Linked DNA regions of Homo sapiens: all the other regions are reported to be linked to region 5. Evidence: microRNA targets listed by miRTarBase, many of them from high-throughput screens and not tested one by one. Region 5 holds a microRNA gene; each other region holds the end of a gene's coding sequence. Distances are from middle to middle.

Region 1 (5,073 bases), not on the chromosome of region 5:
GGAAATAATTGCCGAAGATGAAACAAAGGAGGCAGAAAATCAAGGCCTGGATATCTCTTCTCCAGGAATGTCTGGTCACAGGCAGGGCCATGACTCATTAGAACATGATGAGCTTCGGGAGATATTCAATGACCTCAGCAGCAGCAGTGAGGATGAAGATGAGACCCAGCATCAAGATGAAGAAGATATAAACATCATTGACACGGAGGAAGATCTGGAGAGACAGCTACAGGACAAGCTAAATGAATCAGATGAACAGCACCAGGAAAATGAAGGAACCAATCAGCTGGTTATGGGAATTCAGAAGCAGATTGACAACATGAAAGGCAAGCTCCAAGAGACCCAGGACAGGGCAAAACGACAAGAGGATCTCATCATGAAAGTGGAAAATCTGGCTCTCAAGAACAGATTTCAGGCTGTACTGGATGAGCTCAAACAAAAGGAAGACCGAGAAAAGGAGCAACTCAGCTCTTTGCAAGAGGAGCTAGAATCACTCCTAGAGAAGTAAAAAGAACTGATATTTAATTTCAGTCTTCAGACTGGTCAGCATTAGAAAATTCTTGGCTTTATTGTACTGGGTATTAAGACCTTGCTCTTCCTAGTCCTTTTAATGCTGTGTGTTCTGTTAAGTTCTTTCATTTGTTTGTAATTTTGTTTTTCAGCAAATTTATATTGTTTTGCTAGGTGTTCATCCTATAAGAAGCAGGATTGTATAGGCAGAAAAATGATTGTAGGAAAGTTGCAGGATTAGCGGAATGTATGGTTCAACCTTAATTATAGCTTCATTGCAGGACTTTACTGTTTCTCCATTTTCTAGAAGCTGCTGTTGCTGCTTTGTGATGACGTGAGATCAATAAGAAGAACCTAGTCTAGAGACAATGATGCTAGTTTGCATATGTTTTCCTATGCAATAATTGTTTTCCCAGTTATTCAAAGCAGCTTTCTATATGTAGAGATGCAAATTATTAAGTTGTTTCCAATACAATAAATAAAAGCATCTGTTTTTCACTTTATAGTGTATCTTGTTCTTTCATGGTTGGTGGGAGTCAGGTCCTCTTGTGAGGTGGTTTTATGGTGGAGTTTAGTGACTAAGCAATTTGATCCCGTTCTGCAGGTAGAGGCAGTAGGGTTTATGAAAAAAAGGAACACAGCAGGGGTAAAGAAATTGGGAATGGTCATGTTTGCATCATATTAAGATTCCAATTCTATTTGATCTACTTGAAAGCTGGGAAACATTAGATACAGAGCTTTCTTAAAGTACCCTAATTTTTGTAGATGAAGGCCTTTGTGCCTTTTTTAAAAAGCGCTAAATCTACCTGCATAAAATGTTGGAAACAAAGCAGTGGTTATCAAGTGCAGTCCAATGAACCATTCCATTGGTTTGGATTAATATTTCTAATTTTCTTCAGTTGAGTTCCTATAATTAATATTCTGAGAACTGAGGTCATTTATCAATGTCATTTCATCAAAATTGCTCATAAAGGAAGTTGGTACCAAATTTCTCATGCTCTAAAGATAATCTAATGCCTCACAACATAAGCTATTTTTGAAAAATCAGTTACTGATAAAAGAGGCAGAGTTGTATGCAATTTGTTTGACAGGTTGGTTTATGAGAAGCTTGGGTTTGAAAATATTTAAAGTTTTTTTTTTTGAGACGGAGTCTCGCTGTGTCACCCAGGCTGGAGTGCAGTGGCACCATCTCGGCTCACTGCAAGCCCCGCCTCCTGGGTTCACACCATTCTCCTGCCTCAGCCTCCTGAGTAGCTGGGACTACTCAGGTGCCCGCCACCATGCCCAGCTAATTTTTTTGTGTATTTTTAGTAGAGACGGGGTTTCACTGTGTTAGCCAGGATGATCTTGATCTCCTGACCTCATGATCTGCCCGCCTTGGCCTCCCAGAGTGTTGGGATTACAGGCATGAGCCAGCGCGCCCGGCCTCTTTTTTTTTTTTTTTAAGACAAAGTTTTGCTATTGTTGCCCAGGCTGGAGTGCAGTGGTGTGATCTCGGCTCACTGCAGCCTCTGCCTCCTGGGTTCAAGCGATTTTCCTGCCTCAGCCTCCCGAGTAGCCGGGATTACAGGCATGTGCCACCACACCTGGCTAATTTTGTAGTTTTAGTAGAGACAGGGTTTCACCATGTTGGTCAGGCTGGTCTTGAACTCATGACCTCAGGTGATCTGCCCACCCTGGACTCCCAAAGTGGTGGGATTACAGGCCTGAGCTACCACACCCGGCCTAAAGTCCATTTTACTTCTATCTGACAAGAAACAGTATTGAAATGTTAAAAAAAAAAAAAAAGTTACCTAGTCCTCAGGTCTATAATTAAATATGCTGACATTTGCAGACTTCAGAAGGCTAATTTATCTTTTTAAGTGAAACGTTTTTATGAGTAAGTTTTTTTTTTTTTTTTAGATGGAGTCTTGCTGTGTTGCCAGGCTGGAGTGCAGTGGCGTTATCTTGGCTCATTGCAACCTCTGCCTCCTGGGTTCAAGCGATTCTCCTGCCTCAGCCTCTGGAGTAGCTGGGACTACAGGCATGTGCCACCAAGCCCAGCTAATTTTTGTAATTTTAGTAGAGACGGGGTTTCACCATGTTGGCCAGGATGGTCTTGATCTCTTGACCTTGTGATCCACCCGCCTCGGCCTCCCAAAGTGCTGGGATTACAGGCGTGGGCCACCGTGCCTGGCCGTGACTAGGATTTTAGCACAGAATATGTAAGCTTAAGCAAGGTTTCCCTCAATATCTAGGTTTTATATTATTTCTTGAGGTTTCCAAATAATATATATTAAACAACAACAAAAAAACAGTTTAGGATGCTAGGTGACAAAATTTACTGTTTTTGTAATCTAGGTATTTTGCTACACTTAGAAGATTGACACCTGAAAAGCTCCCACCATATCTGGCTTTACAGTGGATCATTTATCAAGTAGTTTATTCTTACCAAGGTCTCAACACCAATGGTGGCAGTTCCATCAATAACAGAAAGGAAAGATTCTGGATACAATAACAAAATAGTATATTGATCTCACTATTCCTGTTTCAGTTATGAGTTCTAAGTGGATTCTAAAATCCACGTTTCCAACCTTGATTCTTCTGTGCTTCAGGTTTAGTTTAGCCAGATGTGTACTAGAAACATACTTGAAAGTATCTCTCAGGCAACTCAAGTGTAAATGTTCAAAATGGCCGGGTGCAGTGGCTCATGCCTATATCTCAACACCTTGGGAGGCTGAGGCAGGTGGATCACCTGAGGTCAGGAGTTCAAGACCAGCCTGGCCAACATGGCAAAACCCATCTCTATTAAAAATACAAAACAAATTAGCTGGGCATGGTGGTGGGCACCTGTAATCCCAGCTACTTGGGAGGGTGAGGTGGGAGAATAGCTTGAACCTGGGAGGTGGATGTTGCAGTGAGCCGAGATCATGCTACTGTGCTCCAGCCTGGGCAACAGAACAAAACTCCATCTCAAAAAAAAAAATACAGGTTCAAAATGGAACTTTTCCTCTTCCTTGAAAATTTGCTTTTCCTTCTGGGTTCCAGTAAAAATAAATGGCACCACCACACATCCCAACTGTGGAAGCTGGACACTAGAGCCATAACTTTACATTTCTCCCTTTCCCTTGCTACTTTTGATTTTACTTAAGAAGTTCTTCACTCACTCTACTTCATCCTTACAGCCACTGTCCTATTTCAAGCCATTATTATTATCTATCAAATGGCAATAGCTTCTTTACCATCCAATTTAGTTTTCACTGCCACCAAACTCATTTTTCTGAGACATATTTGATTGTGTTACTACCATGCTGAAAACCCTTCAGTGACATCTCATTGCTCTCAGGGCTAGGTTTGTATTTCTCAAAAAGATGCACAAGATTATGAGTTCTCCATTTACCTTTTCAGCCTCAGCTCCGCATTCAGTATATGGTCAGTCCACTCTGAACTTACATTTTTTTCAAGGAGCTTACTCATTCTCCCACTCCTGGGCCATAGATCCTTTTAACAAGCAGTTCACTCCACCTAGATGACTTTACCCTTTGTCTGAGTCCTACTTAACCCTCAGGTCTCAACCTAAGTGACTTCAGCAAGGCTTTTCTGACCCTTTTCTCCCTCTAGGTTAAGCAACCCTATTACGGCTTTGCACTTTGTTCTTCCCTCTCTCATTTATTTGACAAACATTTTGTGTGTGTGTGTGCCAAACTACAAGGGGTGTGTGTGTGTGTGTGTGTGTGTGTGCGCGCGCACCAAACTACAAGCTACTGGATATGCAGTGATGAACAAAGCATTTAGTGTCTATAAACTCATGCACTGCACGGTCTACTGGGATGAGTATCTGTTATAACTAAAGTGTAAATTACCTTTGTTCGTATCTCCTGCTTGGCTTTAAATTTACTGAGATATTTTGCTACATTAGTGACTGTAAACTTACTGAAGAATAGTAGAAAGATCAAAATCTTAACATCAAGACATGTCATGCATGGTTCGTATCCTAGCTCAGTTACCTATTAGTTGTGTGACCTTGCACAGGTAGCAATCTGTTTACCTCAATTTTCTCATCTCCAAAGTGGAGGCAATAATACTACCTACCTCATAGGGTTATTGGGCTGTTGGCTGCTGGCTGCTGAATCATATAAATGACTTATTTAGAACAATGCCTGGAACATAGTAAGTAAACAACAGAAGTAAATTTACCACTATTACAACCCATTAAGGTATGGACCATAACAGATACTAAATAATTAAAGAGTGACTGAAATGTTAGAAAAAGTGTTTATAGGGAAACAACTATTCTAAATGTAATTGTTTTCAAATTTAAGAAATTTTAGAGATCAGTTTCAACCAAATTCAGATGGGAAAAAAAATTCTAAATGAAAGCTTATAAATTAGGTTACAGCAGAAACGGTTTGCTTCAAATTTATCTGCAGCATAAACAAATTTACTCAGCTCTTTCCTCCTACAGTTTAGCACTTACAGTTCTCTTTTCTTGGAATAGTCACCAGATATTCTCATGGATAGCTTTTTGTCACTGAAGGCCCAACTCAACCCTTATTTTCTCTGGTAACCCTATCTGGCCATTCA
Region 2 (5,073 bases), not on the chromosome of region 5:
ATCATTGTACCAGTGTACTCACCTGGGCAACATAGCAAGACCCTATCTCTACAAAAATAAAAATAAAAATTAGCTGTGTATGGTGGTGTGCACCTGTAGTCCTAGCTACTCAGGAGGCTGAGGTGGGAAGATTGCTTGAGCCCAGGAGTTTGAGGCTGCAGTGAACTATTACTATGCCACTGCACTCCAGCCTGGGCAACCGAGCAAGACCTAATCTCTATAAAAATGAAAAAGACCCTTCCTTCCAACAACGTTAAACCACTAGAGATGTTTCGTACTCCCTACAATTTTTTCTCTCTTTCTGTTCACAATACATTGGGACTTACAGGCAGAGTAAGAGTCAATGGAAGCTATGGTAAGAAAGTCAACAGAGGGCTGGAGGAACAATACCAACAGCTAGGATTCTCTACTCCCAGATTTGCTAACAAGCATTGATTTGCTCCACTGATATACAACACAATCTGAGGGAAGATCATTGAAAATCTAGGATCTTTTGGTCTAAAGTTGGAATCATGGGGAGGCATTTTCTCAACCTTGTTCATGTCTCTTTCCTTTGCAGGGCAACAGGCTTTGGCTTCTTAAATGCGCTATGCAAGGCAGCAGCCGTCCTGGGAAACTTAATATTTGGCTCTCTGGTCAGCATCACCAAATCAATCCCCATCCTGCTGGCTTCTACTGTGCTCGTGTGTGGAGGACTCGTTGGGCTGTGCCTGCCTGACACACGAACCCAGGTTCTGATGTAATGGGAAAAAAAGCCATCCTTCCTGCGTTTCTTCCTCCTGCCCTGGGTCAATTCTCCTTCCTGACTCAAGGCTTCAGAGTTTTCCTATATAGAAAGGTGATCAAGTATCAGAACATAAACACGTGCTGTGACTTAAAATTTAGAAGCATATCATCTTGCCCCTTTGTGATTTTGCACAGGTTGTTTGTTTGTTTTGTTTTGTTTGAATGCATTGTTATCTTTCCAAACTGTGATGCTACTGCCTCCCGCAAATCAGTGGAAGCATTTCTAAAATGCCCTAGGCAGCCAGGCTTCCCTGGGGTTCTGCTCATTGAAAGTTTAGAAGCTAAGAAGACTGGGCTGGTGTAAGAAATAGATCCTGCTCCTAATTTAACATTAACAGGAAATATAAGTCGGCACATTATTGCATTTGTGCTGAGAAGAGGGATTCTTTTTTTTTTTTTTTCTAACAGAGTGATATTTCCTGTTTACTTAGAAAAGGACACCCAGTAATTCTCACTGTTATAGCAGAGCCTTTCAAAGAAAACCATGTGGCACCAAACAGGGCTGGGTGGGGCTCTTTGGGGCAAGACAATTAAGGTGACCGCTGACAAGAAAAATAAAAGCTCTGCAATTAGCAGCAAAAATCTGAGTGTGCTGCATAAGCAAGATTTCTGTCAGAAAGCCCAATTAAACCTCTGAAAAGTGTGAGGAAAAAGAACTGTAACAGTATCTGTGACTGTGGCATGTGGTTCAGAATGTTTGAAAATCAGAGATCCGAGAGAGAGCTTCTGCCTCCATTTACCACTCCCACTCCTTCAGCTGCCCTTGGTCTTGCCAGACAGCAGATTCAGGGAAAGAAAGCTGCTTCTTAAAAACTGTCTGCCTACCTGATTCTGCCACTTACCCACACTGTCTCTAGTCTAGAGATTGCCAGTGGATAGCTAAATTGTAAATTGCAAATTAGGAAGAAATTCACACCCAGAGCCATTTGGAAATACAAAATGGTACCTCTTTCCAGTACCTCTTTGCTGTGGGACTGGCCCGCCAGGACCCCCACCCCACCTGGCCCGCAGTTGACATTCAGCTTCCCAGCTGGCATCAGCAAAGAGGGTTTGTCCCTCTAGCTTCCCCAGGGCTGGCCCACTGCTCAATGCGCTCCTGGCTCCCTGTAAAATCACAGCCCGCCTGCACTCCTGAGGGCCCCTCTCACAGACAGACCATCTCCCTGTGGTTGTTTGACTGCTCATTTTACCTCTGGAATCTGCCTGGGCTTGGAAGAAAGAGGTCAGCCAGGACATTCCCACGGGCCCGCTGTCAGCTACATGACCTTCTCGCCTCTCAGGCTCCCCTTCCCCCAGGCTCGTCCTTTTTACACCTCTTCTTTGAAATCTGAACCTTCCTTGTAGACTTGCAGCCAATGACCAGAAGCCAGGAATAAATCCCATATTTAAACAATATTCCTTTTTTAACTGCCTCGATAGAGGTTTATTCTTGTTACTTATTATAGGCATTTTCAGGCAAGCCATAGCTTGGGGCCTCCAGGAAGGGAAAGCTTTTGTTTCCACTGATCATTATTTTCAGAGATGTCCTAACTCCCCTGAGGCCCCCCTGCCTCCCCCTCCCCTTCCTAATGATCCCTCGCAGAGCTCAGACTAAGTGAAAAGCTTCTTTCATTAACATAAGCCATTAATCGACTTCCCCTTGAAGTAATTCAGGTCTGCAGAGGGGGGAAGACTGGTGTTGGGGGCAGTGGGAAGAGGGTGGTTCCCTGGGGGTCTGTGATCAGGGCTAGAACATCAGGAAAACCCGAACCAAAAACTGCAAAGGTGGCAGGAAGAAGAAAAATCACTGAAGGCTAGACAAGATGCATTTGAAAGATACCAACCGCACAGGGAAAGAAACAACTTTCTCTCACTTCTGCCTCCTATCATTTTATTGGAGAACAAAGACAGCAGTCAAACAACCCAAGAAAGTACCCTGTATGTTTTTCTTCTTCCACATGTACCCATTTTCCCACCTATCTCTCCCTGATTTGTCTTCTTTAAAAAGACATTTGGGGACCTGAGCAGGTCTTTTAGTTGAATGCAGCATGTGCAGAAATAACTGCAAAAGCCAGGAGTGCATCTCCATCAACCCATCAAAAGAAAAATAGAAATGTACATGGGCATCGCTGTCTCTAGTCCTCTGTGATAGTTCACTTTGCTAACTAGACTACCTTTACTTTTCAAAATATCTCTAATGTCTGCTCTGGGGTCTAAATGCATAAAACATCTCCCAAGCTGCAGAGCACAGTTATTCAGAATTTTATTTGAACACTGGGTTGGGTCAGCATAGGATAAACCAGCAAAACCTTACTTCATGAGACCTGCCATCCGTGTCCCCTGCAGAAGGACCGTTCTTGGCCTACTTGTTACCTAATCCAAGCATCCTTGGTGGCCTAAGAGGGATCTTTTCTCATCTCCTGGACAGTCTGTGGTCACAAACCTTCTTGGTCACCACCTCTCCCACCTTTTGTGCACTCTTCCCTGCCTCCTTGAGACTGTTCATCACCTTGATTTTCTAAGAGAGCTCAAATCATTTCCAAAGCATGTGGTGTGGCCTGTATAGCTTGCTCCAGATTTAGCTGGAGATTAAGAAACAGCCAGGATATTAAACAGAAACTCTCAGTTGTATCAGTGTAGCAGGCCACTGGCACCTAAACACGCAACTGGCATCTCATTTCGCCTACAGTAGAAGGAAAATGAAAATTTGTACAAAAATGAAAACCTAGGAAATAGTCCACTTGCTCCTATATTTTTACCACCTTTTCTAACTAAAATTTCCCTGTTGCTCTTTGGAATCAATCCAGAATGCTCCCAAGTCCCATTATTATCACAGAATCTTCTCAGTAGGGAAAAACAAACAACTGCTTCAAACTGTGAATTCTGTATGTACCACATTCTATCCCAGGTATTGGGTTTTAAGGCACCCAACTCACATTCAGTCCTGCTGCCTGAATCATCTCACACCAGAGTACAGACCTTGGAGACGCGATAGATGGGTCCTAGCCTGACCTTCACCACTAAGCGGTACAGGGACCCAGATCTTGCTGTGGAGACTGTAAGTCGTTGAACATCTCTAGTTCTCACTTTCCCCGTGCACAAAATAAAGGATTGGGACTAGTCTGCTCTCCACTCTCCAGCATTGTAGAAGACAGTAATGAAAATAGCTTCATCTTATCTGCCTTCTTATGCTAAACTCATTTTTTTTTTTTTTAGGTGGAGTTTCACTCTGTTGCCCAGGCTGGAGTGCAGTGGTGGGAACTCTGCTCACTGCAACCTCCGCCTCCCAGGTTCAAGTGATTCTCCCACCTCAGCCTCCCAAGTAGCTGGGACCACACGCATGCGCCACCACGCCCAGCTAATTTTTGTATCTTTTAGTAGAGGTGGGGTTTCACCGTGTTGGTCAGGCTGGTCTCGAACTCCTGACCTCAAGTGATCGGCCCACCTCAGCCTCCCAAAATGCTGGGATTACAGGCGTGAGCCACTGGCGGCCTCAACTCATTTTTACAAGCACTAAATAGGTTTAGTTTATAAACTGAAAAATTAGGAAATAGGCACGCATAAAAAGAGTGTAGGAAGTTGTTTGGGAAGCCCGCATGGAATAGGCCAGAAAGCACAGTCCCCATGCTGTCTGCCCTGCCAGCATCTCAGCATCCTGACTAGTATCTCTGTTCACTGCAGGTTTGACAGTTACCATCACCCAGCCAGAAAAGGGCCCCGCCTTGCCAGATAAACGCGCTTAGGTTAGAAGACTATAATTGCAATATTACCCTACAGCTCTCCTGACTGTTTATTCCATTATTTTCTTGAAACATGGCCTTAAGTATTATACATAGGCTTCAGAAACAGTTTTTCAGTGATTTTACCTATATTGGCAAATAGACAAATCTCACCAAATCAGAGTTCAGGTTTTCACCAAAAACTGCTTAGTTGTCTTTCAAGATACCTTAAGAGATCAAAGGGGAGGTGGGAAAAGAAATGTAGTGACAGAAGGGAGAGTCCAAGATACCACTGATAAGGTTCCAGCAAAGAGATTAGGACACAGCAGAGACTTTCTAAATGCTGGGGTCATTTCCAAAGCAGTCCAGGGGAATACTTTCTGATTCCCTCTGCCAATCAAAATAGATAGAATATGATATTCTCCAATTTTTTTTCTGTTTGATGTCAAAATGGCCTTTACCTATTTCTTCAGTAATATACCTGATCTGTTCATGCACTAAAGGCTCTGGAGCCAGGAATGTCTGAATTTGGCCTTCACCTGGTATCACAGAAAGACAACTGGGATATTGGTGTTAAGGGGCATATCGG
Region 3 (5,073 bases), 34 Mb from region 5:
GTCTCGGCTCACCTCAACCTCTGCTTCCCGGGTTCGAGCGATTCTTCTGCCTAAGCCTCTAAAGTAGCTGGGATTACAGGCGCCTGCCACTGCGCCCAACTAATTTTTCTGTTTTTAGCAGAGATGGGGTTTTACCATGTTGGCCAGGTTGGTCTCGAACTCCTGACCTCAGGTGATCCACCTGCCTTGGCCTCCTACGGTGCTAGTATTACAGGCATGAGCCACTGTGCCCAGACTAAAACTCGCCGTTTTCATAGTGATTTCCACATTTTCTTAGAGATGGGGCCAATTTATACTCCACAGGTAATAGATATACTCACCTGGCTGGGCATGGTGGCTCACGGCTGTAATCCCAACAGTTTGGGAGGCCGAGGCGGGTGGATCACCTGAGGTCAGGAGTTCGAGACTAGCCTGGCCAACATGGCAAAACCCCATCTCTACCAAAAATACAAAAATTAGCCCAGCATGGTGGCAGGCACCTGTAATCCCAACTACTCGGGAGGTTGAGGCAGGAGAATCACTTGAACTGAGGAGGCGGAGGTTACAGTGAGGTGAGACTGCACCACTGCACTCCAGCCTGGGCAACAGAGCAAGACCCCTTCTCAAAAAAAAAAAAAAGTACTCACCTGTTCCACACATCCTCATTAGCCTCATGTCTTGTCACTTTTTATTTTTGTCAATCTGATAGGTGAAAAATGGTATCTCAATGTGGTTGTTGCTTGCGTTTCTATTTGTGAGGTTGAACATCTCCAACCACCACCACCAACTTTGACCTTAGGTGCAGGCGGTCGAGCAAATCGTAAATCATTCACAGTTCAAGCACATTATCATCTTTGATATATGCAAGGATCTTTTTTTTTTTTTTAGATGGAGATCACTCTATCACCCAGGCTGGAGTGCAATGGTGTGATCTTGGCTCACTGCAACCTCCACATCCTGGGTTCAAGCGATTCTCCTGTTTCAGCCTCCTGAGTAGCTGGGATTACAGGTGCGCATCACCGCACCTGGCTAATTTTTGTATGTTTAGTAGAGACAGGGTTTCACCATGTTAGCCAGGCTGGTCTTGAACTCCTGGCCTCATGTGATCTGCTCACCTTAGCCTCCCAAATTGCTGGGATTACAGGCGTGAACCACCATGCTGGCCATCTTTTGATACATTTGTTTATTCTCTTATATTTTTATGTCCTTCCTTGTGAATCTAGATGTTCTTGCAAAATGTGTATTATTTTATTGAGTCTATATTGTAGTTTTAGAGCTGCTATTTCCTTTTTTGTAAACTTTTTTTTATATCTTTTGCCTGCTTGGCTAATGGATTTGTCTTTTTCCTACTGATTCGAGTGAGCCCTTCTTTTTTTTTTTTTTTTTTTTTTTCTGAGACGGAGTCTCTCTCTGTTGCCAGGCTAGAGTGCAGTGGCACCATCTCAGCTCACTGCAACTTCTGCCTCCTGGGTTCAAGTGATTCTCCTGCCTCAGCTTCCTGAGTAGCTGGGGCTACAGGCGCATGCCACCATGCCCAGCTGATTTTTGTAGTTTTAATAGAGACAGGGTTTCACCATGTTGGCCAAGATGGTCTCGATCTCTTGACCCTGTGATCCGCCTGGCTCGGCCTCCCAAGGTGCTGGGATTACAGGCATGAGCCACTGCGCCCGCTCCCTTCTGCAAGAAGACTTTTGCTTTCACTCTTTCCTCTGAGTGGAATGCCTTTCCTTTCTTTCTCTCCTCATCTAGTTAATGCGACTTCTTCTTTAGATTCCATTCCCCTCCTCGGGGAAGCCTTCTGTGACTACCCACTAAAGACCAAACCTTCTCTGTTCACCACTATCTCCCCAGCACCCAGTACAGTACATGGATCACAATAGCTGCTCGGGTAAATACTTGCTGAATGAATGAATGAATGAAGGTATCAGGTGGTGACGGGCAGGTTGAACTGTTAAAAAATTTATTAAAATGTCCAAGAAGTACATTAATGTCCACAGTGTCAGATACCACAGACCCACAGAACACTGCAGCTCACAGCAAAACCAGCAGGACCCAAAGCCGTTCACACGCACACACACTCATATGCGTGCCACGCACATGGCACACGCAGACACACACGCACATCCAAAAGGGAAAGATCAAAAGACAAACCGCCCACTTTAGAAAAGACCAGAGCCCCCTCCCACCATGGAGCCGAGGTGGGGGCAGGGCAAACGGCTGAGGGGCTCAAGGGCAGGGAGCATAAACCAAGACCCCCCAAAAAACACTGCATCCCCAGCCCCCCGCAAACAAAGGAAAATTTTTGTGTGACATAGATGACCAAAGATGTGTTATTATTATTATTTTAAACTAAGAAGAGTTATCAAAGTAAGAAGACAAACCTGTATCCCTGGGTTTTCTGAATAATAACCATAATAAGATAGATGTCTACAGGGAGGAAGATTGAAGACAAGGATAAGGGTTCAGTTTACACTTCTTAACCATTTCCTAAATGTGTATGAGGGTGCAATTATATTTCAATCTCCTCTCCAGAGTCCAGAGCAGGATTTGGGTCAGAACCAAGATGGGAGTTGGCTCTGACTTCTGGATTTGGAGTAAGGATTTGGTGATGGAGAGAAAGTGTAAGCAGAGCCAGAGTAAGGATTTGGTCCAGAAAACAGGACCAAATCCTTATTCCAAATCCTTACTCCTGTCGTGGTTGTGACTTCAAGCCAGTACCTTTCCTTTATATCTGAGCCTCAGTTTCACTGTGTGTAAAATGGGAAAGTAACAGTTTCTAAGTCAATGGGCTATTGAGAAGATTCAAGGAGATTGTATGTAAGTCTTTAGCATGGTGTCTACTTCTTAGTTGTCAATGGTCATTATTACTTCCCAGAAGGGATTCAGGCTCAGTTAACACATTTCTTTCTTTACTGAACCCCTAGGTGGACCATTCATTTGCTTATTTTTCTTTCCTGAAGAGGGCCATTCTCCACGGTGCTTTTTTAACCCTGATCCACAGATTTTACCCGGACTGCTGAAAGTGAGTAACAGACATGGAGGAAAAGCTGTGGATCTTTCCTGCCAGAGATGAGGGAACTGGATCCTGGCCCCTGGTGTGGAGAGACCTTTTACAGGTTGCACATTTGGGGGAGGAAGGCAAGGTGAGTTCTTTCCCACTTAAAAAATTAAAATCTACAAGAGAAAAATGTGTGTGTGTGTGTGTTTGTGTGTTTCAGTTTTAACACTGAGCATCTCTCTACAATATGACCGCAGGTAGGTGTCACTACTTCAAGTTTTAAGTGTTTCTAGACCACCAGGCAATGGCCAGGGACAAGGGTGGGGTGGGGCAGGAGTGGGACCCAGGGCAGGGGCACTACCAATGTCTGCTTAAGGACTGGGTATGTGCACTGGGCTAGAAAACTTGGCAGCACCTCCTTGGTCCAGGAAGGAGGTTCTTTGTCTCCCTGAGAGATGGAGGGGGAAGAAATCTGGGCTCATCTAGCCCTAAATATCCTCTCGTCTATTTGTGTGAAAGAGATTCATCACACATGCAGAACCACCAAATCTCAGCGCTGGACTAGACCTGGAAGGGTTAGCAATACACTCTCCCTCCATCACCTACATATTGCTTTGATCATTCTCACTCCTAACTCTGAAGGCATGGAGGGAGGTTGTCCTAAAAACATCCCTAAAATGCAGTACGTGGGATCTCCACACTGTGTGTTTATCCACCAAGACCAAAGACGGAACTTGGGCTGAAGTCCAGGGTAAAGGGAGAGCTGTTGTCAAGTTCAAAAACAGTGTGCTTCTGTGTAGCCTTCTATTCCCAAAGCTAATGACCCTACGTCCAGGCTTCTTCCTGGATTTAGGAATTCAGCCAACATTGACTAAGTCTGAATTTCTGGTGTGAAAAGCAATTCCTTCATGTGAATGCAAACATACACTCATGCACCCTCATCAAGGCCTGCTTCAATCAGCCTGGCAAACAAGAGACCAGACCAATGAGCTTTGCTACTTGTGCTTCCCTCAGCTGGGACACACTCCCAGAGTTCAGCCAGACGAGAATGAACTTTTCAGACACCTGGCTCCACCTGCCAAGAGGATCTTGTGTATGTAAAAAAAGGGAAAAGAGGAGCTTTGTACAAAGGATTATGTGTGTGGGGGATGTGGTTTGGGGTTCAGGGACTTCTGGACTCTCTTGTTTCTCTCTGGGTTCTGTCTCCCCAGGCGAAGGCTCCAGAGGAGGCATGGGAAAGGTGTTGTGCTTTCTTTTTTCTGGTTCTTCAGCAGAAATTCCCTTCGTCCTTCTCCCAGTCCTCCGTTGGGTGTTTCTTGTGTTTTCTGCGCTCCTTGCGGGATTTGTGGTGGTGATGCTGGTGGTGGTGTTGGTGGTGGTGGTGGTGTCGCCGCATCCGATGTGAACGTCTGGCTGCAGGGAAGTGAGGGAGGACAGGGAAGGGACAAAAGGTGGTGAGAGGCAGGTGGCCTGATGCAGCGGGTGTCCTTGGGAGAGAAAGTAGAGGAAAGAGGCCAGACGCGAGGGCTCATCCCTGTCATCCCAGCACTTTGGGAGGCCAAAGTGGGAGGATCTCTTGAAGCCAGGAGTTTGAGACCAGCTTGGGCAACATAGCGAGAACCTATCTCTACAAAAATAAAAAAATTAGCCAGGCGTGGCGGCACATGCTTGTAGTCCCAGCTATTTGGGAGGCTGAGTTTGGAGGATCCCTTGAGACTGGGAGGATGAGGCTATAGTGAGCTGTGATTGAGCCTCGCACTCCAGCCTGGGCAACAGAGTGAGGCTCTGTTTCAAAAAAAACAAAACCAGGCCGGATGTGGTGGCTCACGCCTGTAATCCCAGCACTTTGGGAGGCTGAGGTGAGCTGATCACATGAACTCAGGAGTTCGAGATCAGCCTGGCCAACATAGTGAAACCCTGTCTCTACTAAAAATACAAAAATTAGCCGGGCATGGCAGTGGACACCTGTGATCCCAGCTACTCAGGAGGCTGAGACACAAGGATCGCTTGAACCCGGGAGGTTGCAGTGAGCCGAGATTGTGCCACTGCACTCCAGCCTGGGCAACAGAGCACAACTCCATCTCTCTCTCATACAC
Region 4 (5,073 bases), not on the chromosome of region 5:
AAAGAGCTTCTGCACAGCAAAAGAAACTATCATCAGAGTGAACAGGCAACCTACAGAATGGGAGAAAATTTTTGCAATCTACTCATCTGACAATGGGCTAATATCCAGAATCTACGAAGAACTTAAACTAATTTACAAGAAAAAAAAAAAACATCAAAAAGTGGGTGAAGGATATGAACAGACATTTCTCAAAAGAAGACATTTATGCGGCCAAAAAACATATGAGAAAAAGTTCATCATCACTGGTCACTAGAGAAACGCAAATCAAAACCACAATGAGATACCATCTCATGCCAGTTACAATGGCGATCATTAAAAAGTCAGGAAATGCCGGGCATGGTGGTTCATGCCTGTAATCCCAGCACTTTGGGAGGTCCAGGCAGGTGGATCATAAAGTCAGGAGTTCGAAAGCAGCCTGGCCAATATGGTGAAACCCCGTCTCTACTAAAAATATAAAAATTAGCTAGGCATGGTGGCGGGTGCCTGTAGTGCCAGCTACTCAGGAGGCTGAAGCAGGAGAATCGCTTGGACCCCGGGAGATGGAGGTTGCAGTGAGCTGAGATCACACCACTGCACTCCAGCCTGGGTGACAGCAGAGTGAGACTCCATCTAAAAAAAAAAAAAAAAAAAGGAAACATCACAAGCTGGAGAGCATGTGGAGAAATAGGAATGCTTTTACACTGTTGGTGAGAGTGTAAATTAGTTCAATCATTGTAGAAGACAGTGTGGCAATTCCTCAAGGATCTAGAACCAGAAATACGACTTGACCCAGTAATCCCATTACTGGGTATATACCCAAAGGATTATAAATCATGCTACTATAAAGACACATGCACATGTATGATGTATGTTTATTGGGGCACTATTCACAATAGCAAAGACTTGGAACCAACCAAATGCCCATCAATGATAGACTGGATAAAGAAAATGTGGCACATATACACCATGGAATACTATGCAGCCATAAAAAAGGATGAGTTCATGTCCTTTGCAAAGCCATGGATGAAGCTGGAAACCATCATTCTCAGCAAACTAACACAGGAACAGAAAACCAGACACTGCATGTTCTCACTTATAAGTGGGAGTTGAACAATGAGAACACATGGACACAGGGAAGGGAACATCACACACTGGGGCCTGTCACGGGGTAGGGGGGCTAGGAGAGGCACAGCATTAGTAGAAATACCTAATGTAGATGATGGGTTGATGGGTGCAGCAAACCACTATGGCACATGTATACCTATGTAACAAACCTGAACGTTCTACACATGTATCCCAGAACTTAAAGTATAATAAAAAAAAATTTAAAAAAGACTCTGTCTCAAAAATAAATAAATAAATAAATAGAGCCTTATAACTCACTGTAGCCTTAAGCAGTTCTCCCACCTCAGCCTCCTGAGTAGCTGGAACTACAGGTGCCTATTCACTCTTACTGCTATATGATAATCCATTATATGAATATACCACAATATATTTCTCTTTTCTCCTGTTAATGAACATTTGGATCGTTTGTAGTTTGGAGCTATTATGAATACTGCTGAGATGAACATTTTAGTACCATATTTTGGTGAACATATGCATGCATTTCTGTTTTATGGGTGTATAGCTAGGAGTAGAGTGTATACCATTGAGTGTATACCTAGGATTGGAATTTTTGGATCATAAGGTAGGTATACGTCCTAATAAATATTGCTAAACATTAAAAAAAAAAGAAAAGATCCTTACTAAACGAAAGCAATAAGACTTTGTCTTGTATGGTGGATAAACTGAGAAATTAGAATACATACTTGGAATTTGGATATTAAAGAATAAAATAATTTAGCTGGCTCTGATAATGGTGGTTATGTTAAAAGGACATATTCTATTCAATTAGAGGTGCACACTGAAATATTTATGGGTATGAAGACACAATATCTGGGATTTGCTTTCAAGTAGTCCAGGAAAAACAAAAAAGAGGATGTGATAGATGAAACAAATTGGGCAGAACGTTGGTAATTATTGAAACTGGAGGATGGCTATAGAGTGGCTCTTTATAGTACTTGTCACTTTCTTATTAAAGTTTTCTACTTTTAAAAAGTTAAAAAAAAATTATAAATATATTTTTTAAAGTGTGATTCTAAAATCTGGCTGATCATCCAGATCACCCGAGGAGCTTAAAAAAGTAGATTCTGGGAGCTGCGCAGTCCTGCTGAATCAGTCGTCTGTGAGTCCATTTGTACTGGATGGGAGGTGGGGATGAAGGCTTGCGCATGGAGGAATGTGTTATTTTTTAATTTCCTGGTTCTGGCAGCCAGCACAGCCACGCTGCCTCCTCTGCTTTGTCTGACCCAGGAGATCTTACATCAGTCTTCCTTCCTGCCTGCCTACTTCTCTCTTTCCTGTCTTTCCCTCCTCCTCCCTCTTGTTTTCTCTTTCTTCACTTTATAAAAGTTTAGGGCAGGAAGCTTAAAAGGGCCACAGGGTCCTAGCATCCCTTTCCTCTTCCCATCAGAGGAAGAGTGTCTTCATTGTCAAGCGGGGGCTTGTGCTTGAGGACTGGGCCTGGACCTCATACAGTTATTATTTATGAAAAGCTGCCTTGCTACCATGGATGAGAGATGTGTGCATTGCTCAGGTGCACCTCAAAATAAAGCTGCTTAGGAAGCACAGTCTTAATATCCAAGCCTTTCTTTTTCTTTCAGCATTCATCAATTGAAAACATCACAATCTGTTCTTAAATAATTTATTTTTTAATGTTGACTCTTGTGAAAAGTTACATTTATTTAGAAAAACTTGAAGAAATCCAACAAAGAATAGGTGGCTTTCTATTAGGGACAATTAAATGTGCAAATTTCAAATACTTTTTATAATAAGTATAAATAATTACTTTTTTTCACATTAAGAATGGAAATAATGATCAACACAAAATATTAAGATATCAACTTTAAGAGAATTAGATGAAAACACTGAAGTTTATTTGGTATCTTTGGAAAGAAATTATAAAGATTCGTCTGGGAAAAACTTAGGGGGCTCTAAGGGGAAAGTGTGCCTAATAGTATGAGTAAAGGCTGTGTAGAGTTATGGATCACAAATATTTTCAGGCCATAAGTACAGACCCCCAAAATGGCAGCCTTTATCTCTGGGGAAAATGCATTTCCCCTCCTTTTTTTTTTTTCTTCTAGAGCAAATATGACAGCAACCACAAAGCACACAGAGAAACTGTAAGCCAGCAACAGAAAGAGATTTCCTCATACTCATGGTTACTGGCTTTTGCTGTCCCAATACCAGGGTACCATGGGATGCAGGGGACTTCCCAGCCCCCCCAGGACACAGTGTTAACAGAAAATAAAACCATCACAAAAGGCCACATCTTTCCCTGTGACCATTGCCAGTCTCATCCCTGCTCCTTCCCTATCTCATCTCCAAGGAGGTAGGACACTCAGAGGCATTAACAGAACACAGAGTATAGTTTTTTATTACATAGCTGGAGTTTCATAAGGAGAAGCACGAAACATCGATGAATATGTATGTATACCTTGGATGCAATTCCTTCTTTCCTGGGGAGGCAAGCAAAAGTGTATCAAAGAGGCCAATTTACTCCCTGTGGTCAGGAACTTGCCCACAGCCTGACTCAAAGCAAGGATGTTCTCTCAGGAGAACACTGTGGCATTTTCCCCAGAGCTGAAGAAATATCTTCACTTAAATAATCTTGAAGTTTGTAATAAAATAAATAAAGTGAATTACACAAAAAGGACTAGAGCTCCCTTTAAAAAGGCAGCTGGTTGAGTTTATGCAAGCAGTGTATACACAAGCTCATGCCCCAACAACAACCAGAAAACAGGTTATTATTATTTAGCCTTCCTATTGTACTTCTAGGGCAGCATTTCAATATAATTTAAAAAAATCCCTCATACATAATGTAAGGGTATATTATATATGTACACACTTTTACTCCTCAGTTCAAGCTAACTTCTTTAGAAGTAAAGACAGTAATAACCCAAAGAGTTACACGTCTTCCCAGTAAAATATTCTAATTTTTTAAAAGGTGCATATTATAAAGAGCAGCTTGTTTTTCTGTCAATGTGAACATGTTCAGTCTCAGCAGCCTCAGAATCACAGTCCATGGATGGTTCTGCATTTCTGCCGGGTCCTCAGGAAAGGAACCGGGCAGGTAGGGAAAAACCATGAACTACAAACACTCTCTGAATACGTCCATTTTCCCTGAGCTTCCTTGAGCTTCTTGCAGAGGGCCTCGCTGCCATGAGGATCTGGCTTCACATCTCTGAGAGATGCTGGGGGAGGGGAGGTGGAATGGCTCTGGCTTCTCCAACCCACGCGACTTGTGTGTCTTTTCCCTTTCTCAGCCAAGACGATGAAGCAGTCCTGATGCGCAGGGTGCAGGGGCCTCGGCCAGTCCCCGCACACCTTCCAAGTCCAAAGAAGTTCCTGGCCTCCTGCTTGGTAGGAGAGGAGGAACCTTGGGCTGAATCTGACATCATCCCTTGCCAGTTACAAGCTTTGCTTTCTAAGGCCACCTGGGAACACTCCCGGGTTACCAAACCTGAGCATCGTGGGCACCACGAAGAGCTTATCTTTCCTCTCCTGCTCAGACACCCTTAAGCCCACTGTTGCAGTGGCAGCTGAGGGGTTCAGAGGATAGCACCATGATGACTGACAGCTCGAGGCCCCACTTCTTGCAGGAGGTGACCCACCTGTTTCCGGTTAGCCATACATCTGCTTGAACTGAAAGCATTCGTTGCAGTAGCCGTTGCACTTGGCATTGCCAAAATGATCACAGGCGGGGGCCCGGCAACGCTGCTTGGGGGGGTCTTCGGGGGCAGGCTCACCCCGGTGGGCCCCAGGGCCCATCCTCTGGTTGGGATGCTGACACTCCATGCAGAGCTCCTCGCTGCGGCAGGCCAGGATGTTCTTGCAGGAGGCCCGGGCGCACTTGGGCCTTGAGGTGCTTTGTGTGGTTCGAGGCACATCTCTGCGCTGGCTCGATCTCTGAGTGGAAAGAACAGGCAGATCATTAAAAAGTCAGGAAACTATTGCTCACATTTCTTAGGGAGAGCACAATGAAATCTCATTGGA
Region 5 (5,073 bases):
ATAGCTGTCTGCAGGCCAGGCACGGTAGCTCAGGCATGTCGTCTCAGCACTCTTGGAGACCAAAGCAGGCTAATCACCTGGAGTCAGGAGTTTGAGACCAGCCTGGCCAAGATGGTGAAACCTCATTTCTACTAAAAGTACAAAAATTAGCCGGGCGCGGTGGCTCACGCCTGTAATCCCAGCTCTTAGGGAGGCAGAGGCAGGAGGATAGCTTGAGCCCAGGAGTTTGAGACCTGCCTGGGCAATACAGTGAGACCCTGTTCTCCACAAAAAGAAAAGAAAAAAAAGAAAAAAAAATTTTAAAAATGCAAAATTAGGTGGGCATCGTGGCACGTGCCTGTAATCCCAGGTACCCCAGAGGCTGAGACAGGAGAATTGCTGGAAACCTGGAGGCAGAGCTTGCAGTGAGCTGAGATCACGGCCCTGCACTACAGCCTGGGCAACAAAGTGAGACTTGTTTCAAAAAAAAAAAAAAAATTTATTGAGGAGCTTTTATGGCCTAGCCTGTGTTCTATCCTGGAGAATGTGTGTACAACAGTGTATATTCTTAAACATCATCTTAGATTCCATTTTGGATGCTTGCATGGGGACTGTGTGTCCCTGTACTGGGACTTATGTGAACACTTGGCTTCAAATCCATTGCTGTTCTCTAGAAATCCAGCCCAATTCTCATGGTTAAATATAAGGTATGTGTGGTAGGCATTGCTTTTTCTCTTTGGGGACAGAACTCAGGAGGATTGTCTCTTGATGAACAAGGCTAACCTGCTGAGCCTTTGAAGCAAGGAACTGGAGATGGTCCTTTTAGGGGTTTATATTCTGGATTCCAGAAAACATGCAGAGAGAGTCAATAAATGTATCTTTATTTTTGTGTCCATTTTAACCAGGTGAGGAAAATTCCGTCAAAAAACCCAGACTTTTGGAGCGAGAAGATCTCATGCAGTCATTCTCCAAAAGAAAGCACTTTCTGTTGTCTGAAAGCAGAGTGCCTTCTTTTGGAGCGTTACTGTTTGAGAAAAACCACGTTGAAGTTGATGCTGATCTTGGTAACACATTTGCAGAGCGTGCTTATCATCAGACTTGCATGATGTTGGGGTTCTGTTTTTGTTTAGTTGTTTTGCATCATGGGGTCTCTGTTGCCCAGGCTGGAGTGCGGTGGCGCTTCCAACCTAGATCTCTTGGGCTCAAGTGGTCCCGTGCTTGCTTTTTTTTTTTTTCTTGAAACAGAGTCTCTGTCTCTGGCCCAGGCTTGAGCGCAGTGGCATGTTATCTGCTCACTGCAACCTCTCCTCCCAAGTAGATGGGATTACAGGTGCACGTGCCACGACGCCTGGCTAATATTTGCATTTTTAGCAGAGATGCAGTTTCATCATGATGGCCAGGTTAGTCTCCAACTCCTGACCTCAGGTGATCCGCCTGCCTCAGCCTCCCAAAATGCTGAGATTATAGGTGTAAGCCACCCAGCCTAGCCTCCAATTTTTTTTAATGTGTGCTGCCAATGCAAGCACATATGTGTAGGAATTATTTTTCATGTGAGCACATAGTATATGGAACTTAATTTTTATTGATGTACGGTCTCAAAAATATATATTTTATCATATTCTTATTATACATGTAACATAGTCATATACACACAAAACACTCTTCTATACACAGAGAATACTCTCGTATCACTTTGGGTAATTTTTTGTTTGTGTGTGTATGTTTTTGTTTTTTTTTTAGATAAGGTCTGGGTCTGTCACCCAGGCTAGAGTGCAGTGGTGCCATCTCAGCTTATTGCAACCTCCACCTGCCACTTCAGCCTCTTGAGTAGCTGTCTACAGGCGCACACCACCACGCCCGGCTAACTTTTCTGTTTTCTCTACACATGAGGTATCACCATGTTGCCCAGGCTGGTCTCAAACTCTTGAACTCAAGTGATACTCCTGCCTCAGCCTCCTAAAGGGCTGGGTTTAGAGGTGTGAGCCACCACACCTCACCTGTACCTGTGTGTTTCTGCTCATTTTATTGAGGAGCTTTTACAGCCTGGCCTGTGGTCTCTCCTGGAGGGTGTTTGTGTGTGTGACAATGCATATTCTTCAACATCGTAGATTCCATTTTGGATGCCCCCGTCGGGACTGTGTGTCACTGTACTGGAACTCGAGTGAACACTTAGCTCAAAATCTATTGCTGTTCTCTAGAATCCAGCCCAATTCTCATGGTTAAATATAAGGTATGTATAGTCGGCATTGCTTTTTGAAACAAGGAACTGGAGATGGCCCTGATAGGGGTTTATGTTCTGGATTCCAGAAATCATGCAAACAGGGCCAATAAATGCATCTTTATTTTTGTGTCCATTTTAACCTGGTCAAGGAAAATTCCAACAAAAAATCAATGGTGCTGGAGCAAGAAGATCTCAGCCTGTGACCCTCTAGAGGGAAGCGCTTTCTGTTGTCTGAAAGAAAAGAAAGTGCATCTTTTTAGAGGATTACAGTTTGAGAAAAGCAACGTTAACGTTCATGCTGATCTCGGCAATACATTTGCAGAGCGTGCTTATCATCAGACTTGGATGAGGGTGGGCTTTTGTTCCTGGTTTGTTTGTTTTCTAAGACGGGGTCTCTTTTGCCCAGGCTGGAGAGCAGTGGCACTTCCAACCTAGCTCTCTTGGGCTCAGGTGGTCCTCTTTGCAGGGTCACGATCTCTGCTCACTACAATCTCCCCTTCCCGGGTTGAAGTGGTTCTCCCATCTCAGTCTCCTGTGTTGCTGGGAGTACAGGCCCATGCCACCACGCCCGGCTAATTTTTGTATTTTTAGCAGAGATGGGGTTTCACCGTGTTGACCAGGATGGTCTCCATCTCCTGACCTCGTAATCCACCTGCCTCGGCCTCCCAAAGTGCTGGGTTTACAGTCATGAACCACTGCACCCGGCCTTTGATCTTAATTTTCAATATGAGACCCATCATGAATTTGGGCATCACCTCTGCACAGGGGCCATGGTGATCTCTGTCACTCCATTCATTTCTTATGTGTGGAGCAAACATTTATGTGTAGGAGTAATTCTTTATGTGAGCATACAGTATATGGAACTTTCTTTTTTTTTGAGATAGGGTCTGGAAAATAAATGATGTACAGCCAGGCGCATGAGTATATGAGCAGTTTTTGTGTGTATACGACATGAGCGGTGGCTCATGCCTGCAATATCAACACTTTGGCAGGTTGAGGCGAGTGGATCACTTGAGGTCAGGAGTTTGAGACCAGCCTGACCAACATGGTGAAACCCTGTCTCTACTAAAAATACAAAAAATTAGCCAGCTATGGTGGCGCACGCCTGTATTCCCATCTGCTGGGGAAGTTGAGGGAGGAGAATCACTTGAACGGACAGATGGAGGTTGCAGTGAGCCAAGATCACGCCACCACACTCCAGCCTGGGCGAGAGAATAAGACTGTCTCAAAAAAAAAATATATATATACATATATATTTATATAGAGAGAGAGACTCTGTCTCAAAAAAAAAAATATATATATGGGTGTGTTTGTGTGTATATATATATTATATATGATGTATATTTCATCATATAGCCATATATATAATTATATACACAAAAAATACTCTTCTACACACAGAGATGACTGATATCACTTTGGGGTGGTTTTTGCTTGTGTGTTCTTTTAAATTTTTTTTTGCAACAAGATCTGGCTCAGTCGCCCAGGTTGGAGTGCAGTGTTTCAGTCTTGGCTCACTGCAACCTTCGCCTCCCACCCCAGCCTCCTGAATTAGTGTCTACAGGCATGTACCACCACACCTGGCCTACATTTGTATTTTTTTACAGACAGGGTTTCACCGTGTTGTACACGCTGGTCTTGAGCTCCTGAGCTCAAGTGAATCTCCTGCCTTGGCCTCCTGATGTGCTGGGATTAGAGGTATGAGCCACCACACCCAACTGGTACTTGTGTATTCCTGTTCAAATTTTATTGAGGAGCTTTTACCACCTAGCCTGTGGTCTATCCTGGAGGATGTTTGTGTGTGCGACAATGTATATAGTTCAACATCTTAGATCACATTTTGGATGTTTCCAATGGGACTGTGTGTCTCCGCACTGGAACTCAAATGAACACTTGGCTCAGAATCCATTTGCTGTTCTCTGGAAATCCAGTCCAATTCTCTTGGTTAAGTATAAGGTATGTCTAGTAGGCATTGCTTTTTCTGTTTGAGAACAAAACTCGGGAGGATTGTCCCTTGATGAACAAGGCTAACCTGCTGAGCCTTTGAAGCAAGGAACTGGAGATGGTCCTTTTCAGGCGTTTTATTCTGGATTCCAGAAAACATGCAAACAGGGCCACTAAATGCATCTTTATTTTTCTGTCCATTTAAACCTGGTCAAAGAAAATTCCAACACGAAACCCAGAGTGCTGGAGCAAGAAGATCTCAAGCTATGAGTCTACAAAGGAAAGCGCTTTCTGTTGTCAGAAAGAAGAGAAAGCGCTTCCCTTTTGAGGGTTACGGTTTGAGAAAAGCAGTGTTGAAGTTGATGCTGATCTTGGTAATACATTTGCAGAGCATGCTTATCATCAGACTTGGATGATAGCGGGGTTATGTTTTGGTTTTGTGTTTTTCTAAGACAGGGTCTCCGTTGCCCAGGCTGGAGTGCGGTGGCACTTCCAACCTAGCTCTCTTGGGCTCAAGTGATCCTCTTTTTATTTATTTATGTATTCATTTTTGAGATGGAGCCTGGCTCTGTCACCCAGGCTGGAGTAGAGTGGGATGATCTCCACTCATTGCATCCTCTGCCTCCCAGGTTCCAGAAATTCTCCCACCTCCGTGTCACTAGTAGCTGGGATTACAAATGCTCACCACTATGACCTGCCAGTTTTTGTACTTTTGGCACAGACGGGGTTTCACCATGTTTGCGGGGCTGGTCTCAACTCCTGACCTCAAGTGATCTGCCTCCTTGGCCTCCCACAGTGCTGGGGATTATAGATATAAGCCACCGTGCCCGGCCCATTCCTGTCTTTTTAATTTAATCTGCTCGTCCCTGACATCGAAAATTTTTCTTGCTTAACAGCTTCCACTTATTTCTCGGAATAGACCTTTTTCT
Region 6 (5,069 bases), not on the chromosome of region 5:
CCCACCCCTGTTGCCTACTATCCAGGGCCAGCCACTCAACTCTACCTGAACTACACAGCCTACTACCCAAGGTACCCTGCAGCTAAGAGAATATCACAGTCCCACTCCCTGTCCCAATCTGGGGAAAGGTCACGATCCCCTTTCTGGACCAGATAACTCCTCCCTTGAGATGACAAGGGAGTAAGGTGGCAGCTGGCTAATGCCATCTACAAAACAGATCGAAAATGACTCTGTAGAGGCTGGGGCTTCAGGGAGGAACTGAATTAAGCACAAGGCAGAAACAAGGGAGGAGGGAAACAGGTCTCGGTCTAGGCCACAGGTGGCATGCATGACTAAACCTTGTCTCTCCCACCCTAGCCCCCCAGTCTCCCCCACCACTGTGGGCTACCTCACTACACCCACTGCTGCCCTGGCCTCTGCTCCCACCTCAGTGTTGTCCCAGTCAGGAGCCTTGGTCCGCATGCAGGGTGTCCCATACACGGCTGGTATGAAGGATCTGCTCAGCGTCTTCCAGGCCTACCAGGTGAGATTGTGTGGCCGGAGGGCCTGGCGGGTCTGGCTGAGCTCTCTGCCCTAAATCTGTGTCCCTTCTGTAGCTACCCGCTGATGACTACACCAGTCTGATGCCTGTTGGTGACCCACCTCGCACTGTGTTACAAGCCCCCAAGGAATGGGTGTGTTTGTAGGAGAGAAAGCCAGGAGGTAAGAGCCAGCTGATATCCTCGGCGAACATGTCTCTCCTGAGTCCAGAAGACCAGCACCCTCAACCTGGTAGCTTCTTTCTGGCTTGTCAAAGCTCTCAGAAGGTACCTAGAGGAGCCCAAGCCCCAGCTCCATCCTCCACTTATTCTGCCTGTTTCCCCCAAAGACAATGGCTGGACCCTGCATGCAGGGCTGGGGGTGGAATGGGGCTAACCAGCTCCTGATGGCCTGAGCCAGGCATCTTGACTGGCACCTGGAGAGCCCTTAAGTCTGTCCTGGCTGTGGCCCATGCCGACAGATATCGTGGGGCTGACAGGTCCACGGCAGGCTTGCTTTCTTTTATAAAATGGAAGCTCTGGTACCTTCAATGTATGACTCCTGGGAGAATCAAGGGTCCATCTGAGCCTCTGAGTAAAGATCCCAATGTTCTACCTCTCCCTGTCCCTCTTGTAGGGGATAGGGAGGCAGAGAGAGCCAGCCCCTACCCTCAGAGTATCTGGACCTCAGAGACCATGTTGTGCCAGGGGTGGTCCCACCTAAAGATGCTAGCCCCTCTCCAGGTGGGCATAAGGAGTAACAGATGGCAAAACCACAAACTATTTTGATGGACTGTGCTGCAGTATCACCAGAAGACATTAGGGGGCAGTAGGCCCCCACACAAAACCTTCAGGCTTGAATTTTAAAGGGGAGGACTTTCTGCCAACTTTTCTTGTATGCCTTGGGAAAGCCAGTTGCCCTGAACCCAGCAGACACCATGGAATGTCCTTTGCACGCATTAAATGGTACAGAACTGAAGCCTCGGAAGCAATTTGGAACTCGATCTTCTCTTCCTTAAATGAAAAGTTATTGACCAAATGGACTTTTTAAAAGACACAGGACCCTTAACTTTGCCCCAAAGTGAGGGGCTCCACACCAACCCCAGGCGGAGGAACACTCAGACAGATTAAGGATACTGTTGACCTGTCACTGTTTATTATTTCAGCACTAAAACTGAGGAGCCTCAACTGCTGGCTCTTCTTCCCTTTGTATTTGTGTAAGGAGCACTGCACTCCCATAAAAGGTTTTAAAATACAAAATGTACAAGAACACACAATTCCAAGTGCTGTAAACATAACTGAGAACCAGTTCCTTTACTAAACATCCATTTTATAAAACACAAGGTTTCAATTTGAGCCCATCTGAGCCTTAAAGATCCATTCTGAATACCAAAAACAGGGCTTCACAGCCAGGCCCAGAAGAGGTCTGGTGATAATGGCTGGCCCTGGGTGGGGATAGTTTACACCCGGGCAGCAGCACCACACATGAACCCAAAGACATGTTCTTTTTAAAGCTGTTTTCAGCCATGTTTCTCTGTGCATCTCCAGTAAGCAGAAGGCTACCCATTCCATTCCTCAACCCAAGAGCTAGCACAGTTAGAGTAGGAGGGGGTGCGTACTAGCACGTGCCCAGTTGCTCAGTGCTGCTAGTAGAAATTGATTTGCATAGTCCAATGGATGTGTGCTTTAACACCACTATGTTGCACAAAAATTTAAGTCTTTATCTACAAAGCCAAAAAATATTGACTCTTAACACCAAAGCTTTTACAAAGCTGATATAAAACTGCTTACATAGTATACAAAGCTCTATTTTAAAATTTAATGTTTATTTTAAATAGGAAAGCATTTCTAGTGCTACAGGCATCAAGGTATTTAGAAGGCATCAAAATTTGGTGCATAGCAACTCTGGATCATAGAGGCTTTTAATTCTTGAGGGCACAAAGGGTATTGCAAGGGGAACTCTTGCAATAACCTCATGTGAGGCAGCTACACCAGGGGCAAAAGGGTAGGGGCAAGTCTGGCCATTTCTCTGGAATGTCAACCGAGAGGCCAACTTCTTGCCCCTCCAAAGGAAGCTGTGGGCGTCCAACCACAGGCCCAGAAGCAAATCTCACTATCCACATTCTGTGACACAACTCACTTTTCAAGAAAATTTGAAAACACCCAGCTCCAAGAGGGGCCACAGTGATCTGCTGAAGAATAGACCTTTTTCTCTAACTAACTTTAGGGGAGAAATCTAAAATATATTTTGTTTTTTTTAAAGACCATACTTCCTCATCCTGAGTCAACAGCTCCTAACCTACTGACAACAGGTGGTGGGCAATAGGCCAGCTCCCTTTCCCAGACCTGAACTGGCCTTAGTAGAGAGAGTCCTGGCATCAAGGGCCTGCAGTCTCCTGGAATAACAGCATCAGGCCTTCAACCAGCACACTGTCTCACATATAGGCACTCAAAAAATCTGCTTCCTGAATCAATGGAAGTATATTATTTCATTTGAAAGCATACTGCAAACTTCAGAGGCTCTGTAATGGGCCCAGGAACAGGTAAAAAAAATCCCATTAGGGAGAGGGGTAAGGGCAGGTTTTTTTTTTTTTTAAAGTACCCAACTCGGGTACCTCCTTTGGTAGACAGCAGGCTGCAGTTTCTGCTGGGCCCTGCCTTGGACACCAGTCTCACCAGCAGCAGCACCAGGGTGTCTTTGGTGTGGAGGGTCAGGTTATCACTTCTGGATGTGCTCAGAGCCTTCTGGGGAAAAGGCTGGTTTTTAGATCATACAGACAGGACAGGGTAGGCCAGAATCATTTCAGGCTATAAATAGAATGGCAGATAAGCCTTCCATGCCAGTGTGACTCTTAAAACCTTCCCATCTGGAGTCCTGTATTTTCTCTGCCCATGCTGATGTACTGCTCATTTGTGCTTTAGCTCTGCACACAGCCTGGCCTCTAGCTAGAGTTAGAACTGCAAAGCTGCCTAAACCACTGAGACTGGCTTCAAAGGTCACAGAACAGCCAAAGGCAGATGCTTCTGTTTGGAAAAGGTTCTACGACCAGATGACACAAACAGGAAGCGCACTCCACAGCCTACTAGTTTTTATGATGGCAAGAAATGAAAGTGACCAAGCTAGAACCCCACCATTCAGAGTCACCTTAAATGTAGCCATCTTACCCAGGGTCCTGAGGGAAAAAGCAATTTCAACATGGAGCCAGTATGGAGAGATTGCAAGATTACCTAGAAAGTTACCAAAAGGCTATGCTCTGGAATGTCTTTTTATATTCCAACACTTCAATGATGGAATGGTCTCTTCTCATTTTATCTAACAACAGTTTAGTTTTATAAAGAGGTATGAGCTACATTTGGCTTTATTTCCTATAAATCTATGAACGTCTTCAGGACACATGCTGACTTTCTGAGGCATAGGTGTGGGCTTGGGATATTTTTTTCTTTTTCTTTTTTTCTTTTCTTTTTTTTTCTTTTTTTTTTTTTTTTTTTTTTTTTTGCTTCTAGAAGGTCTTATCAAAAGTTCCTATTTTAAAAATTATCATAAAAACTAAAGGGCCCTTCAAATGACCATAAAGCAGTACAAATCACCAATCCTAGCTAAGTAACCAGGTCACCTGCAAAAGCAGCACCTCGGAAACAAGAGAGCCTGCTGCATTCACACTCAAAGCACCCATCATATAAAAGTATCCTAGTTAAATATAAAAAGCAAAGTTCATTTCCCCAAAGCTCAAACAGCCTATGCTGCTCCTGTTCTTTTGCCAAATCTACCCAAGGCCTGAGGTGGAGGAATGCTACTTTCCCCACAAATGGTGGGTCCCACTCCTGGCCCCAGACCTGAAGGCTGCAGAGTTGGAAACCCAAGGTCCAAGGAGAGAAACATGCTGAGAAGTTGGTGGTGGACACAAGGCTGCAGTAAGCACTGTTAGAGCCCATCAGATCTTCCTAAATCCAGGGACTCAGGACTCGGGAGGGGAGCCTGCCTGCTCACCCCTGCTCCTTGGGAAACAGAAATCTGGGACATGTCTCTCCCAATTATCTCGTTCACTGAAAAACAAGAAAAGGGAGAGTGATTAGTGACCTCTGAGTGATTAGCCATATGATGCCCAACGCTGAGCTCTACCTCAGACATTTCCCTTCCCATGGCTTTCTGTAAAGATAAAGGCAGTGTCTGAAGCCTGCTCCTGAGCTGAGTGGCATTAGAGATGGAAACATCGCTCCACAAACTACTCTGGACCTCTTTTTCTCTCTCATTCAGTTCATTTTGGGTTGGGAAGGGGGCTTACCCTCACTCTAAAGGTATGTTTAAATAAGTATTCACCTTACTCTAACTTTTCTTTAATTCATATCTCTTTGAGAAAGTTTTTATTTTCTACAATGCCACCTCCTATGTAAATGGAATGAAAATAAATGCTTTGGTCAGAATAAACCACTGTGATGTGGGGGTGATTTTGCTACTGTATCCTAATACAAGCACTCTTTATTATGTGGGGGCATTTCTGTTGTTTGTGATCTTTTCTGATTGGAGGCTCTAGCTTTTCTGTTAATTTCTCT

The links. Region 5 holds the annotated microRNA hsa-miR-519a-5p (CUCUAGAGGGAAGCGCUUUCUG, at 2,406-2,427, shown strand). A microRNA usually pairs through its seed, bases 2 to 8, with sites in the 3' UTR of a target mRNA and lowers its output. Matches are read on the target gene's strand: a 7mer-m8 pairs with bases 2 to 8, a 7mer-A1 pairs with bases 2 to 7 and ends in A, and an 8mer does both.
Region 1: miRTarBase lists TAF7 as a target of hsa-miR-519a-5p. Seed matches in the 3' UTR shown: 7mer-A1 at 813-819.
Region 2: miRTarBase lists SV2C as a target of hsa-miR-519a-5p. The part of its 3' UTR that is shown has no 7-base or 8-base seed match.
Region 3: miRTarBase lists NCAN as a target of hsa-miR-519a-5p. Seed matches in the 3' UTR shown: 7mer-A1 at 3,265-3,271.
Region 4: the mRNA of TNFAIP3 is a reported target of hsa-miR-519a-5p. Seed matches in the 3' UTR shown: 8mer at 3,156-3,163.
Region 6: the mRNA of NFATC3 is a reported target of hsa-miR-519a-5p. Seed matches in the 3' UTR shown: 7mer-A1 at 4,017-4,023.

What each region holds. Positions count from the first base shown.
Region 1 is chr5:141,314,430-141,319,502 of GRCh38, reverse strand. TAF7 (TATA-box binding protein associated factor 7) reads left to right here. Exons shown (of 1, transcript NM_005642.3): 1 at 1-1,013. The coding sequence ends at 508. Among named protein-coding and RNA genes, the nearest start is that of TAF7, 3.8 kb to the left of the region's middle.
Region 2 is chr5:76,324,805-76,329,877 of GRCh38, forward strand. It overlaps SV2C (synaptic vesicle glycoprotein 2C), which reads left to right. Exons shown (of 13, transcript NM_014979.4): 13 at 560-5,073. The coding sequence ends at 743. Among named protein-coding and RNA genes, the nearest start is that of SV2C-AS2, 16 kb to the left of the region's middle. RefSeq lists an enhancer at 628-1,127.
Region 3 is chr19:19,249,083-19,254,155 of GRCh38, reverse strand. NCAN (neurocan) reads right to left here. Exons shown (of 15, transcript NM_004386.3): 15 at 1,923-4,390. The coding sequence ends at 4,245. Among named protein-coding and RNA genes, the nearest start is that of HAPLN4, 11 kb to the left of the region's middle.
Region 4 is chr6:137,880,948-137,886,020 of GRCh38, reverse strand. It overlaps TNFAIP3 (TNF alpha induced protein 3), which reads right to left. Exons shown (of 9, transcript NM_001270508.2): 9 at 2,709-4,986. The coding sequence ends at 4,702. Among named protein-coding and RNA genes, the nearest start is that of WAKMAR2, 15 kb to the right of the region's middle.
Region 5 is chr19:53,684,079-53,689,151 of GRCh38, forward strand. It overlaps MIR519C (microRNA 519c), which reads left to right and starts at 2,391; the gene lies at 2,391-2,477. It overlaps MIR515-2 (microRNA 515-2), which reads left to right and starts at 931; the gene lies at 931-1,013. It overlaps MIR1283-1 (microRNA 1283-1), which reads left to right and starts at 4,403; the gene lies at 4,403-4,489. The region is part of intron 2 of LOC107985342 (a long non-coding RNA gene); the gene reads left to right.
Region 6 is chr16:68,225,843-68,230,911 of GRCh38, reverse strand. It overlaps NFATC3 (nuclear factor of activated T cells 3), which reads right to left. Exons shown (of 10, transcript NM_173165.3): 10 at 1,653-4,562. The coding sequence ends at 4,441. ESRP2 (epithelial splicing regulatory protein 2) reads left to right here. Exons shown (of 15, transcript NM_024939.3): 13 at 1-71; 14 at 358-523; 15 at 597-1,879. The coding sequence ends at 686. Among named protein-coding and RNA genes, the nearest start is that of MIR6773, 5.1 kb to the left of the region's middle. RefSeq lists an enhancer at 3,426-3,475.